Linked DNA regions of Homo sapiens: regions 1, 2 and 4 are each reported to be linked to region 3. Evidence: microRNA targets listed by miRTarBase, many of them from high-throughput screens and not tested one by one. Region 3 holds a microRNA gene; each other region holds the end of a gene's coding sequence.
The links. The annotated mature microRNA hsa-miR-6744-3p reads GGGCCUCUCUUGUCAUCCUGCAG and lies in region 3 at 1,295-1,317, shown strand. An mRNA with a match to its seed (bases 2 to 7 or 8) in the 3' UTR can be bound and repressed. Matches are read on the target gene's strand: a 7mer-m8 pairs with bases 2 to 8, a 7mer-A1 pairs with bases 2 to 7 and ends in A, and an 8mer does both.

Region 1 (4,086 bases), not on the chromosome of region 3:
TTTGTTACAAGATACTGCTACGTTTCTCAAAGAAAAAAACTCACTAGGCAAAATGTTCCCACGTTTAAAATATCACCGTTTAAAATGAAGTAAATAGGTTATCGTAGTAGAAACTGGTGGTTCCTCTCCAGCATCCATTCCTCTCTTTGTAACTTTTCCCAATTTTATTCAGGTATCCAACTCTCTCTACTTCTTTGCTTCTGAGTATGCTGACCCCATTTCCACCTCTAGGATGGGCCTTAATTGGCCTGAAACAATTAGGGTAATTCTTTCTTCTATAGTTACTGCTTTAGGGAACTTGTGTTATAGAATGGCATTCCCTGATCACAGGGGCTGGCTTAGAAATTTCATGTGACTTGATTTGGGCTGATACAAGGGAAGGCTGACTGAAAGCTTCTGGAAAATACCAGAGCTCCTAGGAGTGGCCTTTTCTCCTACTGCAGGGGTTGATACGTGAATATGAAACCTGGTTGGCCTTTTGTCTACATGAAACAAGTGGGCCTGAGGATGAAACTGGCACTGCAGAAGATTCAGGGGAAGGAAAGAAAGCTGATTTTTTTTTTTCTTGAGACGGAGTCTGCCTCTGCAGCCCACGCTGGAGCGCAGTTCGCAGTTGTGCGATCTTGGCTCACTGCAACCTCTGCCTCCAGGGTCCCGGTTCACAAGCAATTCTCCTGCCTCAGCCTCCCGAGTAGCTGGGATTACAAGCATCTGCCACTATGCCCAGGTAACTTTTGTATTTTTAGTAGAGACGGGGTTTCACCATGTTGGCCAGGGTGATCTTGAACTCCTGACCTCGTGATCTGCCTGCCTCGGCCTCCCAAAGCGCTGGAATTACAGGCGTAAGCCAACACGCCTGACCAAAAGTTGATCCTTTTTTTTTTTTTTTTTTTTTGAGATGGAGTTTCGCTCCTTTTGCCCAGGCTAGAGTGCAATGGCACGATCTCAGCTCACCGCAACCTCCAACTCCCGGGTTCAAGCGATTCTCCTACCTCAGCCTCCCGAGTAGCTGCAATTACAGGCATGTGCCACCACGCCCAGCTAATTTTTTGTATTTTTAGTAGAGATGGGGTTTCTCCATGTTGGTCAGGCTGGTCTCGAATTCCCGACCTCAGGTGATCCACCTGCCTTGGCCTCCCAAAGTGCTGGGATTACAGGTGTGAGCTACCATGCCCGGCCAGGAAAGTTGATCTTTTATGATATCATTTTATGACATTCTAACAGTGATCCATGTAAAATCCACAAGTAAAACGGCTTTACAGCACACATGGCAATGGTCTTGAGAAAGAGTGGGAAAAGCTCTTAAGACCATGTAAAACAGAAGCACATTTGCAGGCAGTATATGGCACAGTTTAGAAGACAAAGCAGCTGGGCTTAAACCAAGCTCTGCCATTAATGTGCACTGTGATCTCACATAAGCCACCTTTTCTTGCCCTTGATACCTATTTGGTACAAGTTAAGAGTTGTACTAGACGAGTAGCTTCTCTTTCACTGTCTGGGATTTTTTCTTTCTTTTTGAGACGGAGTCTCACTCTTGTCGCCGAGGCTGGAGTGCAGTGGCACCGTGTGGGCTCACTGCAACTTCCGTCTCCTGGGTTCAAGCAATTCTCCTGCCTCAGCCTCCCGAGTAGCTGAGATTACAGGCACCCACCACCATGCCTGGCTAGTTTTTATATTTTTAGTAGAGATGGGGTTTTACTATGTTGGCCGGGCTGGTCTCAAACTCCTAACCTCAGGTGATCCACCCGCCTCGACCTCCCAAAGTGCTGGGATTACAGGCATGAGCCACCACACCCGGCCTGGACTTCTTATATATGAGGTCTTATATATAATCTTACATATAAATATATATATCTATGTATAAAATCTATCTATGTATATCTATCTATCTATAAAGAAAGAGACAGAGACAGATACAGGGTCTCACTTCGTTGCCCAGGCTGGTCTCAAACTCCTGGGCTCAAGTGTTCCTCCTGCCTCAACCTTCCAAAGCGCTGGGATTACAGGCGTGAGCCACCAAGCCCAGCTACCATCAGCAATTTTTATTATTGTTCTTCCTTGTGGATTTTGTTTTTAATGATTTGGTCCATCAATACATCTTTCTCATGTACTTGCTGGACAAAGCGCACAACTGCAGATCAGCTCTCCTGATCAGCAAAGGAAATTAATTTTATTTTCTTTAATAAATTACTATAACTTGACCTGAAGATGTAAAAATATATTATTAGCTTTTGAAACTTTAATATAGATGTAATTTCTGACAAGCTTTTACAAATACTGAAAATAGCTTCCAAGTCCTCTTTCTTCTTTTAAGGATCTTTGGAGATTCATAAAAACTACTGAATTTGCTGATTATTTAAGTTATTAGAGGAAGATGAAAATTCAGTGACTTCTCAAAAATTATAATTCACATTTAATTACAAGTCATGATTTTTCTTTACTTTTTCAACAAAATGGTAAATATAGTCTTTAAAAGATGTAAAAAAAAAATTTTTTTTACATTTAAATAAGCATTTAAAAATCTAAGGTAAGACTACAAAGCAGCATAACAGGTTTTCTGTCACTTGTAAACTGGATTAGAAGGCAATCCCCAGAATTCCAGAACCGTTGTGGAGATATGATTTTTAATTTACAATCTAGAAAAACTGCATTCAACAAGTAGTCCAAGGATTTGGGTTCTAGTTGCCAGCTTGCATGGTACAATCTTGAGTAAGTCTCTCAACTTCTGGATATAGGAAATCAAAGGCCCCCCAACAGAATGAAAGGTGTTAAATCAGGTCATCTTGAATATTCTTCCCAGCTCTGTTATTTTACAACGCCATGAAATCAGAGTAACATGTTCCAGGCTGTTTGGGGTTTGGGATTTTAGAACCTGATGCAATGTATAGCACTTTTTAAATTTCTACTTTTTGGAGTCTTATTCGAATATATACATATATATATGTCCCCCATGTTCTTCTGTGCATGTAGTATATTTTTCTATTTAACAGCCTCTTCACCATTAGCAATAAAAAAGTTTCTCAAGGATGTATTTTTTATTTCTTTTTTTTCGGGGGGAGAGAGTTTCACTCTTGTTGCCCAGGCTGGAGTGCAACGGCGCGATCTCGGCTTACTGCAACCTCCGCCCCCCAGGTTCAAGTGATTCTCCTGCCTCAGCCTCCTGAGTAACTGGGATTACAGGCATGCGCCATCACATCTGGCTAATTTTGTATTTTTCGTAGAGATGGGGTTTCACCATGTTGGTCAGGCTGGTCTCGAACTCCTGACCTCAGGTGATCCGCCCACCACGGCCTCCCAAAGTGCTGGGATTACAGGCATGAGCCACTGCGCCCGGCCTCATTTCTTGCTTTTATGTTTTTTTGGCTTCCTTTTTTAATTTCTCCAAGATCTCTTCTGGAGTTGTAGAAGCCAAAAGCTTCACCACCTTTTCACGAGATTTACCACCCTGGACCAAAAGAGAAAAAGCATACTTTACTGTTTAGCACATTCTAATGCTATTAGAGATAGCAGACCTCCGTTGTATAATGGGCTCTCCTGATGGCTTTCTCTTGGTTACTTCTGGTCTAACCAAAGACTATCTCTTAGATTCTTCCTTACTACCATTTGTTACTAAACATTTGTTAGTACTAACAACTCTCCAGGGTTTTTACCTTCATACATCAATTTCTATAATAAAAGCTGGACATTAAAATCTCAAAAATGGGCCAGGCGCGGTGGCTCACGCCTGTAATCCCAGCACTTTAGGAGGCCAAGGTGGGTAGATCACGAGGTCAGGAGTTCAAGACCAGCCTGACCAACATGGTGAAACCCCGTCTGTACTAAAAATACAAAAAATTAGCCGGGCATGGTGGCATGTGCCTGTAATCCCAGCTACTCAGGAGACTGAGGCAGGAAAATCGCTGGAACCCAGGAGGCAGAGGCTGCAGTGAGCTGAGATCGCGCCACTGCACTCCAGCCTGGGCAACAGAGCAAGACTCCATCTCAAAAAAAAAAAAAATCTAAAAAATGATATTCTAGTCTCAAGCAATTAAGTTAAAAATGAAAATCATCTTTAAAATACCAAAATAAATATTGCAATTTTATATA
Region 2 (4,086 bases), not on the chromosome of region 3:
TCCAAAGGGTCTTATGAAAATTGTGCAATCTGAACTTATAATAAATAACCATTGACCTAAGAATAAAATTGTAAGACAAAAGTATAATGAAACTTATCTTTACAGAAGTAGGAAAATCTTTCCATTTGTCCTGTGTGAGCACAACTTTGTAATCCTTAATAACACACATGCAGATATTCACATAATAAATCTTAAGATATGTACATGATGACAAAGTATTAAAATATATACATAAACTACCAGTTAAGACTAATAGTCTGAATATAGGGGTCCAGCATTTTATTCTTCCTTAGAAAATATCTTCCTATTTGGGAATTTTTTTTTTTTTTGAGACGGAGTCTTGCTGTTACCCAGGCTGGAGTGTGGTGGCACAATCTTGGCTCACTGCAACCTGCCCCTCCTTGCTTCAAGCAATTCCCTGCCTCAGCCTCCGGGGTAGTTGGGATTATAGGCACCCGCAACCATGCCTGGCTAATTTTTGTATTTTTAGTAGAGACGGGGTTTCACCATGTTGGCCAGGCTGGTCTTGAACTCCTGTCCTTGTGATCTACCCGCCTCAGCCTCCCAAAGTGCTGGGATTACAGGTGTGAGCCACTGCACCCAGTCAAAAATTTTTTAGTGTTAGATTTGCAACAACATTTTTTTTTTTAATGCATGTGCATCAGTAACTTTTATGTAGACAGTTTTCAAATATTTCATTGTTTCTCAGCATACTTCAACTCATTAAATCTTTCCCAGTCTTCCTCCTGGGCATGCATACATGTCAACATCAGTTCAATTTCCTGTCCAGGGTACACAATGAGCCTTGTGTTTGGGAACCTTTGACCTGGTCATAACGTACCAAGGGCAAACACCTTGTAAAAGGTGACACAAAGAAATGTCTGAAACTTAAATTCGCCAGAACACAGAATCACCAGAGTCCCAGGTTGGATGTCAAGAAAAGTGCCATTAATTTCCTCACCAAGGTGTCCTAGAGAGATCAATAAAGTTCTTAATATTAAAAGAAAAAATATTAAAATTTCTGCAATTTTCAAATGCCACTTTATCAGAAGATACTTTTTTGGGTCAGGGTCTCACTCTTGTCACCCAGGCTGGAATGCAGTGGCACAATCATAACTTACTGCAGCCTTGAACTCCTAAGCTCAAATGATCCTCCTGACTCAGCCTCTTGATGTTTTTTACATTTTTTAGAGACATGGGGTCTAGTTTATTGCCCAGGCTGGTCTCAAACTCCTGGGGACTAGAAATCCTCCCACCTGAGCCCCCCAAAGTGTTGGAATTACAGGTGTGAGCCATTGCCCAGACAGAAGATACTTTTACTACAAACTTGTGTTCATAGCTTATATATCTGATATACAAGTAAAGTGAAACAGCAATCAACAGAGTAAACACATTTTTGACCTGAGGTATCAACCCATGGACCTTCCATGGATTATCGATTTTCAAAAACGTAGAATGCATTAGAATTGCACTCAACACTAAACTATGCTGAAAAGACTATAATGTATAATGGAACATTAGGGCCTTGCAGCCATCTCAGGTAGGTTGTCATTGTGAACATCAGTCATTGTTTAATAGAACTGTGGAAATGCTGAAGTTAGTTTAATCGAATTCTGAATAATAAAGTTTACCATTATTACCTCAGGTAGTCTTGAAGTAGCTTAGAAACAAAAACCAAACCTAATAACATTTAAGGTTAGAGCAGAAAAACATTCAGTCTACCTGAATTTTTTTTTTTTTAATGACAACTTTTTGGTTAGGATTTTTGTTTTGAGAAAAATAAGATTGTTATAAAAATAAGATAGCCAATTTATTTTCCATAAAATCAATAAGTGACAGTAAATCTGTCCATCACATTAAAGACCACCAAAAATGTTATTCCTGCCATGCATTTGAAATGAGAGGGGAAAATTTTATAAACATTTTAATGTGCGAAAAAGGTATTTTCCTGCAGTAGCCCCTGAGATCTTAGTATTTTGTTTGCCAGGAAGTTAACTTTCTATCCTATTAGAATATATCTATTTTTAAAGGTTAGTAACTAATTATAATTTCCTTAATAAGGGTGAAAGTGCAAAATTTCAAGAGAGCCATTATGATAATTTGTTCAGATTTTTCACAAAGATTTTTCTAGTTGCTTCCAAACAGTCTGTGGAAAACTCACTCTTTAGGGATAAAACATTTGAGAGCAATCGAAATGTAGGATATAATCCTGAAATAATGTAGCAATCTTTTACAAAAATCTCTATATCAACAAGAAAAATAACCTTTAGGATAATAGTAAAAGAAAAGGAAAAAAAATGAACATAAGTGACTCCAAAGCTGAATTCACCTGGACTTCTTCAGAAACTCCATTTTGTCCTATGTCTTCCAGACCTGAGTTAATTAATGGAACCTGTGAAAACAATCACGTGTCTGTGTTTTTGTGAGAAGAAAACTTTTTCCTTTATCTGAAGTATTTTTCTCTTCCTCCGTTCTCCCTCTTTAACTGGTAGTAAATTCCTATGATAATGTCAATAAGTTACAATTCATAAACTCTTCATGGGTGGGTATGTCTTGTGTATTCTAGCCCACTAACAAATAAAGCAGGCTTTTTTTTAAATTTCTTTTTTCTTAAAATAACTAATTAGCTATCTAGTTTAAGAAGGAGGTGCAGAAGGAAGAACAAAGCACCCGTGGTTTCACTTCTGTTTTAAAAAAAGTTTTTTAAAGCAAAAGCCCCTGGCCCTTTCTCTTCTTCTTTTTTGAGACAGGGCCTTGCTTTGTCACCCAGGCTGGAGCACAATGGCGCAATCTGGGCTCACGGCAGCCCCAACCTCGCAGACTCAAGCAATCCTCCCACCTCAGGCTCCCGGGTGGCTGGAACTACAGGCATGTGCCACCACGCCTGGCTAATTTTTGTATTTTTTGTAGAGACAGGGTCTCGCCTTGTGGCCCAAGGTGGTCTCGAACTCCTGAGCTCAAGTGATCTGTCCGCCTTGGCCTCCCAAACTGCTAGGATTACAGGTGTGAACCACCATGCCTGGCCTCTCTTCTCAGTTTTAATATGAGAAATTACATGATTATACCTTTCTGAAATCTTGTTGAGTTTGAAATTATGACTCAACGGAGAATATGACTGATACTGTGTCTATCAGAACACTGCTAACTGTATATTGGTGAATGACTGTAAGTCTAAAAATAGCTACCAAAGAAATGAAGAGCCACCTGGCAGAGACAAAGATACTGTGACCAGAAGAAGGAGATTATTCTGAGACACACATAGCTCTTTGACTTCTTTGATCCTTAGAGAGTATTTCAAAGTTTGTAGAGATTCTGGAGGATAATCAATTTGATTTTCAAATTCAATGGCCAAAAAAATGGCATTTTTACTTGGCCTCACATCTAAATTAGTTAGAACTGCAAAAATGCTAACTTTCCTAGCAGTTCTTCCAAGAAGCAAGCATTCATTTTCCTCTTCGTGTGTCTCATATTGGTTAAAACTCAGTGTTTCTAGAGACTTCAGTCATCAGTTCTACTAAACAAGGTAACGTCATCATTGTATCCTGGGGCTGAACACTCCAAGTTCTCTAGTAAAACATAATTGTTTTCATTGACATTCAGAGAGACGGCTTCTTTCTTAGCAGTGGATGTAAGCTCACTCCAAGTAATGTCAGTATTTTTAAAAGCATGTAGAAGGAAGATGCCAATGATAATAGTGAAGAATCCACTCAGGGTCCCAATGATATCTCCAGCTGTCATGCCATACCACTCTTGGAATAAGATGGCAGAGCAAGTCACTACCATGGATGTGAAGAATACATAATAAATGGGTGTCACAAGAGAGGTATTAAAGGTGTCCAGTGCCTTGTTGAGATAGTTAATCTGTGTAGTTACTGAAAGCACAAGTACAGCCAGCAAAACAAAGACCAGCGGATGTTTGTAAACTGGCTTCCATTCTATCAGCTCCTTAATGGCAATTCCCAGGCCTTTCACAGAAGAAACTGAAAACGCTCCAATCAAGGAACAGATTGAAATATAAACCAATATATTGGTCTGTCCTTTCTTGGGAGCCACAATCAAAATCAGCACCAAGGAGATCACAGTTAT
Region 3 (4,196 bases):
CCCTCCGTCCTGATCGCTTTGCCCCACAGGGTCTTTGCTGAGTGCCACAACCTTGTGCCCCCGGGCCCATTCTTCAACGCCTGCATCAGCGACCACTGCAGGGGCCGCCTTGAGGTGCCCTGCCAGAGCCTGGAGGCTTACGCAGAGCTCTGCCGCGCCCGGGGAGTGTGCAGTGACTGGCGAGGTGCAACCGGTGGCCTGTGCGGTGAGTGGGGGCGGCCCCGGGCCCCCCAGACCCCTCGGCCTCTCTGAGTGTCCTGTGCGGTGAGTGGGGGCGGCCCCGGGCCCCCCAGACCCCTCGGCCTCTCTGAGTGTCCTGTGCGGTGAGTGGGGGCGGCCCCGGGCCCCCCAGACCCCTCGGCCTCTCTGAGTGTCCTGTGCGGTGAGTGGGGGCGGCCCCGGGCCCCCCAGACCCCTCGGCCTCTCTGAGTGTCCTGTGCGGTGAGTGGGGGCGGCCCCGGGCCCCCCAGACCCCTCGGCCTCTCTGAGTGTCCTGTGCGGTGAGTGGGGGCGGCCCCGGGCCCCCCAGACCCCTCGGCCTCTCTGAGTGTCCTGTGCGGTGAGTGGGGGCGGCCCCGGGCCCCCCAGACCCCTCGGCCTCTCTGAGTGTCCTGTGCGGTGAGTGGGGGCGGCCCCGGGCCCCCCAGACCCCTCGGCCTCTCTGAGTGTCCTGTGCGGTGAGTGGGGGCGGCCCCGGGCCCCCCAGACTCCTCGGCCTCTCTGAGTGTCCTGTGCGGTGATTGGGGGCGGCCCTGGGCCCCCCCAACCCCTTGGCTTGTCTGACACCTCTCTGTGCCCACAGACCTCACCTGCCCACCCACCAAAGTGTACAAGCCATGCGGCCCCATACAGCCTGCCACCTGCAACTCTAGGTAAGTACAGGGATGGCTGGTGCCTTCCCTGCCACCCAGGCCTGCCTGACCGGTCTGGGGGAGCAGGAGGAGGCCAGAGGGTGTCCCACTGTGGGCCACAGATCTCTGGGGTGCCCGAGCCCAGGACTCCTTGGAAAACATCCCCTGCTGCTCCCAGATGCCTTAGAGACAGAGTCAGGCAGGGGGCGCATCCCTGGCCACGCCTGGCCCCGCATCCCCACCTGGCCCCGCCACCGAGCCCCACCCATCCCCGCCCATACTTAGCCCCGCCCACCCCCACCCCAGCCCCACCCGTCCCCGCCCCCAGCCCCGCCCACCCTGAGCCCCGCACTCCACCCATTCATCTCCTTCCCTGCTCCCCACTGCCCATCCTGGGGACTCACGTGGATGACAGTGGAGGCCTCCTGGATCTCTAGGTCTCAGGGCCTCTCTTGTCATCCTGCAGGAACCAGAGCCCACAGCTGGAGGGGATGGCGGAGGGCTGCTTCTGCCCTGAGGACCAGATCCTCTTCAACGCACACATGGGCATCTGCGTGCAGGCCTGCCGTAAGCTCCGCCACCTGTGGCGGGATACGACCCTGGGCCCGACCCAAGCACACACAGGGTGGGAGGAGCCGCCCAGGACCATGATGTGCTCTCCCCTCTCCCCAGCTGACCCCCGTGACCTGTTCTGCCCCACCAGAGCATGGGATGGCCCCAGAGTGGCCCTGAACCCTGCAGAGCCCCCACGGTCCCCTGAAGCCCCACAGGGAGGCTCTGTCCTTGAGTGATCCTGTGATGGTCCCTCCCCTGAGCCCTGCCTCCCACCACCATGGACGAGGCTTCCATGCACTGACAGCTGGGCTCACGGTGCCCTGGCCTGAGCTCCAGCCACATCTGACACCCCAAAAGTTCTCCAGGGCCTTCCATCCCGGGGGGAAGCAGGCTCCAGGCCTGAGAGCACCTCCCATGGCCAGAGGCCCCTCCGCCTGCAAACTCAGCACCCTCCGTGATGCCATGCTGTTTTCTTTCCAGCCTGCGTGGGACCCGATGGGTTTCCTAAATTTGTGAGTGGCTCCACCCCCACCTGCCCTACCCCACCCTCTCGCGAGCTGAGGGAGGGAGGGAAGGAGCATCCCCATCCCACAGGGCAGCTGTGGGGCGCCCGAGTGTGACGTGGACGTGCCAGTGGCTGGTGTGCGCTTCCTGCCCCATCACTCTGGGCCACTCGGGTACCAGCCCGAGGGAGGGGGTGGCTGGACAGATGCCCAGGGTTGACCTGTGTCTGTCCAGGAGCCCTCAGGGACCCCCTTGATCCATTCCAGCCCGGGGAGCGGTGGGTCAGCAACTGCCAGTCCTGCGTGTGTGACGAGGGTTCAGTGTCGGTGCAGTGCAAGCCCCTGCCCTGTGACGCCCAGGGTCAGCCCCCGCCGTGCAACCGTCCCGGCTTCGTAACCGTGACCAGGCCCCGGGCCGAGAACCCCTGCTGCCCCGAGACGGTGTGCGGTAAGACGCTGCAGAGCAGAGGTGCCCGGCATAGGGTGAGGGGGGACAGAGCCGGTGCCCACCAGGGGCCTGTGGGTTGGGCACAGGAGAGCAGAGGAGAGCCACTGTGTCCTGGCGTGACCGCGGCAGGACCACTCGGCAGAGATGGCCTCCAGGTGCTTCATTCTCCTCCTAACGATGAGGCTGGTGACCTCTGGCCTGCCCAGGAGTGGCCCAGGGACGTGGGAAGCAGCGGGGAGGTGGCCAAGCAAGGGGCCTGGAGGGAGCCCCCAGGGGCTGTGAAGCGGTCAGGTCCTCGGGGAAAAGCACGCCTGCGACTTACTCTGGGAACAAGTGGTCGGGAGGAGGAGTGAGCAGCGCCCAGACAGTGGCCTCCATCCTCCCGCAGTGTGCAACACAACCACCTGCCCCCAGAGCCTGCCTGTGTGCCCGCCAGGGCAGGAGTCCATCTGCACCCAGGAGGAGGGCGACTGCTGTCCCACCTTCCGCTGCAGTGAGCGGGGCTGGGGCCGGGCTCCTGGGTGGCCTCTTGCTGGGGGTGGGGGAGTGCAGGATGGTGGGGGCGCTGGAGCACATGCTCCCCACCACTTGTCGAGGGCTTAGCTCCCTTTCCTTCCAGGACCTCAGCTGTGTTCGTACAATGGCACCTTCTACGGGGTAAGGGCACAGCAGTGGGTGGGTGTGGCCCTGGGGCCTGAACATGTGTGTGGGATGCCCCGGGGCTCTCTGAGCCCCACTCCTTGTCTTGACATTCCTGCCCTGAGGGCCGATCCGCACAGGGGCCCTGGACACGTCAGAGCTGGGACATGCTTGGGACTCAGGGGCACCTTACGTCGACAGCCATGAGCTCCACAACTGCTGCCTCTGAGAGGTCCCTTCAGGGGCTCCCAGCAACAGCCTGGGGGCAGCACACACTGGCCTGGGGTCCCCGCCTGCCCGCCCAGATTCCTACCCGCCCGGATTCCTGCCTGCCAGATTCCTGCCCCCATGGGGTCTCTGCCCACCCAGATTCCTGCCCACATGGGGTCTCTGCCTGCCCAGATTCCCTGCCCACCTGTGGTCCCTGTGTGCATCAGCTCCCTGCCTGCCTGGGTCCATGCTCAGCCAGGGGTGCATCTATGCTCCATCTGAGGAAGGAACAACTCCCTGCAGGCCCCATTGGGTCATGGGGAGGGGTCCTGGCCCTGTTGCCCCACCAGTGCCCTCAGTGCCACCCTCCCACCCCTTGCAGGTTGGTGCAACCTTCCCAGGCGCCCTTCCCTGCCACATGTGTACCTGCCTCTCTGGGGACACCCAGGACCCAACGGTGCAATGTCAGGAGGATGCCTGCAACAATACTACCTGTCCCCAGGTGAGACCCGAGGCACCTGCCCCCAGGTGAGCCCCCGAGGCACCTGCCCCCAAGTGAGACCCGAGGCACCTGCCCCCAGGTGAGACCTGAGTCACCCGCCCCCAGGTGAGCCCCCGAGGCACCTGCCCCCAGGTGAGTCCCTGAGGCACTTGCCCCCAAGTGAGACCCGAGGCACCTGCCCCCAGGTGAGACCCGAGGCACCTGCCCCCAGGTGAGACCTGAGTCACCTGCCCCCAGGTGAGCCACCAAGGCACCTGCCCCCAAGTGAGACCCGAGGCACCTGCCCCCAGGTGAGCCCACAGCTGCTGGGCAGACCCAGCCCTGAGTCACTTATCCTGGCTCCCTGGGGTTCTCTAGCTCAGCCATTGCTGGGGTCTTGTTTGTTTCCAAAGGGAGGGTATGAAGTAGGAGGATAACTGAGGGGGTCTGGGGGTGGGACAGGACCTGCAGGCTGCTGGGGACAGGGGCTGAGGTCAGGTTCCAGGAAG
Region 4 (4,086 bases), not on the chromosome of region 3:
CCTTTCTATATATTTTAAAGTGTATTTCTGTGAACATGAGAGAATTTGTATTATTAATTCATAAGAATTTACTCTAAATGGGAACATACTATGAAACTATGAAAGAAATTATCATCTTGAAATAATTTTATGTATCACTATGGGATTCAGATACCTGATACATGAAAATAGTTGAGAGAATTAGCTAATTTAATCTAGATATTTTAATCGACGTGCATATTTAATTCTGTTTATATTTCTTTTCATTCTGAATTGTTTTAATTTTCCAGATTTTTAGATATATCCGTAATACAGTAGGACAAAAGAATTTGGCATCCAAAACATTGGTGGATCAAAGATTTTTGATTTAACTTCCTGAATAAATAACTTAAAGACTCAGTATAATCATGGCCAAAAAAAAGTCATGATATCAGGTTAGTTTGCCATATTTTTTAAAACTTATAATGCAGACTATTCTGTTTTTGTTTTTTATTTGCAGAAAGATTTATTTTTATAACTTGGGAATATATAACCTGATATAATAGAAAATACTGTTTTCCCATTGTGTGTAGTATTTAATGCAGTAAATAATAAATTAATACTGACAGTGAGGCCAAAAAAAATCTAAATGTTGCTTTCAGCATAATACTTTTTAATGCTAATTAAAACAGTCCCCATCATTTGTCTCTGTAGATTATTTTATAAACTGAGAGCTGCCTGAATCTTCTCACATTGACAAAGTAATTTGATTCCAAGTTTAAGACTAGTTTTCAGTTTGATATTTTCATGTTTTGTGTGCTTATGGTTAAATAAATGTTGAAAGATATTTTCAAGTTTACTTAGAAATTTTAAATTGTATTATTGCTGATTCAATTTGCATCATTCTAATTGCTCATCCTCTTTGGCAGTGGATTAATTCACTGTTGGGTTAATATGCATCTCATGAAATGATATCTTTTCATTCCTTTGTATACCTGTATTAGGTCAGTATACGCTTTCCATGAAATATATTTGCATTTCTAATATAGTTTACATTTATTAAGTTATAACGTATGACATTTTTCCCAATATCATTTTTTATACATTTTAATTACTTAATGTTTTAAGAGTTCTCTTCCAGAGTTTTGCTTTTCAATTACGTTTAAAGACTGTAAATAACAAACAGTAAGGCTGGGCGCTGTGGCTTACGCCTGTAATCCCAGCACTTTGGAAGGCCAAGGCACGTGGATCACTTTAGGTCAGGAGTTCAAGAACAGCCTGGCCAACATGGAAAACCCCATCTCTACAAAAAATACAAAAATTAGTTGGATGTGGTGGCCTGTAATCCCAGCTATTTGGGAGGCTGAGGCATGAGAATAGCTTGAAACCAGGAGGTGGAGGCTGTAGTGAGCCAGATAGCACCACTGCACTCCAGCCAGGATGACAGAGCAAGACCCTGTCTCAGAAAAAACAAAAACAAAACACTGTAAATGTATCATGTTTCTCACTGCTTTCTATGTTAATGCTGTGTAAATACTTAAAATGGAATACTGTATAAATATTATTTATATTTTCTCAGATGAAAATATATACTAAAACATTTGGTATTTCTGTTTTCTGTTTCATTAATGTATATCTGATGGAGTACCATTTAGGAATATAACATTATTGGGGCAGAGGTCCCAGCCATTGCCAAAGTTGAATCTTTTACATTTCCCTGAATCTTGAGGATGACTGAAAAGGAAGTCTTTGAAACTGCAGTTTCTGAAGGATCACAGTACAGGAATGCCTTTATAAAAGCTGCAGAGATAAATACATGTACTTATATGGCATGGATATTTAAAACCACTCACTCAGAAGCATATGAAAGAAATTCAACCATCATTCAACATAGAAGAAGTTAATTTTAGTGCAAAAGTTTTTAAGTATTAAATTTCACAATAAAGGATCAATTGGCTTACTTGCTGATAAATTAAAACAGAAAACATTTAAAATCATTCTAAATTTTGTATGATATTTTTATTTTGGCTAGGTGCATAAAAATGTGTTCAGATTTTCATACACTGTCGACTCCTTTGTTCACATTGTCACAATTTACATTTCCTGATCATGTGCATAATTATTCACTAGATTCATTACCCTTTGTCTATTTCTGTAGTACCCAATCACTATACTTTGACTCTTATATCCCTGATTTTACTGATTTTCTAGAAACATTTGATTTCTCTTCATTTCATAATGAAACAAAACCTAGAGAGGTTCTTTATAAGCTGTTGTGTACTTTGGATGCTCCTTAGAAACATACAGGCCCCTAAAATACTTCTGTAGACCAGTGCCTCTGTTATGGGAGATTTGTAAATGCTTCCTTCTCTGGCATTGCTGTCCTAACTGCCTTTTCAGAAGGCTTTGCTGATGACCTACATTGAGGAACATTCAAAATGATCATTAACTCAGCACTTACAAGCATGAAGCATGTGTTTTTTTTGTAAATATTGACAAATATAAGCTGAGGGGAAATAACTGTAAGTCAAGGAGCAGTGAGGAGTGTGGCTTAATGGAAAGTGCTCCAAATTTAGCAAAAGAAGCCCTGGATTCAAATTAGAATTTTGCCCATCACTCATAAGCTTTGGTATCTTGAACTAAGTCATTTGCCATCATTGAGCTTCATTCTACATCTCTGCAATGAAAATAATATCCTTTGCTTACCACTTGTTGTAAGGATTAGTTTCGTGGGTGTGTGTGTGTGAGACAGAGAGAGAGAGATGGGGTCTCACTCTTATCACCCAGGTTGGAATGCAGTGGCACGATTTTGGCCCACTCTAACCTCTGCCTCCTAGGCTCAAGCAGTCCTCCACCTCAGCCTCCCAAGTAGCTGGAACAACAGGTGTGCACCACCATGCCCAGCTAATTTTTTGTATTTTTTTTGTAGAGACAAGGGTTCACCATGTTGCCCAGGCTAGTCTTGAACTCCTGATCGAGAGATTCACCCACCTCGGCCTCCAAAAGTGCTGGGATTACAGGTGTCAGCCACTACACATGGCCAGGATTAGTTTCTTAGAATGTGCTTTTAACATTGAGTAAACTATGAATGCTGGAATTTTTATTTTTAGTTTAAAATATCTGCCCCAAAATATATTTTTTTCTTGCTAATAAATTAATAATATGATATTAAAACTCAGATTACTGATCTCAATAACTGACCAATGAAAATTCTGAGCCTGCCTTCTTCCTCAGCCACCCCCAGCTCTGCCAGGAAGAGGCCCAGATAGAGGTCACCGATAGATGTAAAACATAAAAGAAGACAACACCCCTGTGGGAGACACAGTTTGTGATAGAGGGTGGAGAGAACAGGAAGAGTGGAGTATTGTCTCTGGGAGGGAGGGTTTTTTTCATTTGCTCATTCATTCCAACAATGTTTCTACCTCTTCCCACTCCCCAGCCCCTCAGAAGGGTCTTATAATTTGTAAGAGAAAGAGGTAAATTAACCAGTAATTACAGCAATATGAAACGTGCTGCAGTACCGGGGTGTGATATAAGGAAAGCTCTTAACTGTACTTCTGGGTCATCAGGGCTTTGACCTCAGAGAAGTGGATTTGATCTAAGATTTTAAGATAAACAAAAAAAAACAAGTGCAACCAAAGCATGGAACAGTATGTGCTCAGAGACAAAGCAGCACATGGCAGTTTGGGGCACTACGGGCAGTTTGAATCAGAGTACATGTACTGTTTATATTTTAAAAGTTGTCTGTATAAGATGTTTTGTCATTTTAAGAAACCTTCCCTTCTGGGGAGTGATTGTCCCTCCTGGGGCTCCCCAGTTCTTTTAGACAGCAAAGAACTCAGGTGGGAGCATACCTTTGATATACAAACTATAGACCTGAGCCACACCTCCTCTGTCTGGCCCTGAAACCCTAGGAGGCAATGTTCCTCTTCCTTAAATCATCCCAGGACCAGGTAACGGGCAACTAGGGATAGTCTCTGTAGTTTAGAGCACACTGAAATTATTCCAACGAGCCGATCCCAAACTGTTGACCCCACCCTGCCTTGCCATTTCCTCAGAAACTCCAGTAAGCACCCAGGCTCTGCCCTGGCTCCTGGTGCTCCTGCCTCCTGACTGGTGCTTTCCCCC

Region 1: miRTarBase lists C15orf40 as a target of hsa-miR-6744-3p. Seed matches in the 3' UTR shown: 7mer-A1 at 1,131-1,137.
Region 2: miRTarBase lists NIPAL1 as a target of hsa-miR-6744-3p. Seed matches in the 3' UTR shown: 7mer-A1 at 3,371-3,377, 8mer at 3,021-3,028 and 7mer-A1 at 2,977-2,983.
Region 4: miRTarBase lists TMEM67 as a target of hsa-miR-6744-3p. Seed matches in the 3' UTR shown: 7mer-A1 at 589-595.

The regions. Positions count from the first base shown.
Region 1 is chr15:83,002,248-83,006,333 of GRCh38, forward strand. C15orf40 (chromosome 15 open reading frame 40) reads right to left here. Exons shown (of 4, transcript NM_144597.3): 4 at 1-3,445. The coding sequence ends at 3,350. Among named protein-coding and RNA genes, the nearest start is that of C15orf40, 7.3 kb to the right of the region's middle.
Region 2 is chr4:48,035,585-48,039,670 of GRCh38, reverse strand. NIPAL1 (NIPA like domain containing 1) reads right to left here. Exons shown (of 6, transcript NM_207330.3): 6 at 1-4,086. The coding sequence ends at 3,499. Among named protein-coding and RNA genes, the nearest start is that of NIPAL1, 21 kb to the right of the region's middle. RefSeq lists enhancers at 2,659-2,718, 2,739-2,998.
Region 3 is chr11:1,255,354-1,259,549 of GRCh38, forward strand. MIR6744 (microRNA 6744) reads left to right here and starts at 1,252; the gene lies at 1,252-1,317. MUC5B (mucin 5B, oligomeric mucus/gel-forming) reads left to right here. Exons shown (of 49, transcript NM_002458.3): 37 at 30-205; 38 at 803-872; 39 at 1,318-1,418; 40 at 1,887-1,918; 41 at 2,177-2,357; 42 at 2,746-2,850; 43 at 2,977-3,014; 44 at 3,589-3,708.
Region 4 is chr8:93,816,103-93,820,188 of GRCh38, forward strand. It overlaps TMEM67 (transmembrane protein 67), which reads left to right. Exons shown (of 28, transcript NM_153704.6): 28 at 270-2,019. The coding sequence ends at 350. Among named protein-coding and RNA genes, the nearest start is that of TMEM67, 63 kb to the left of the region's middle.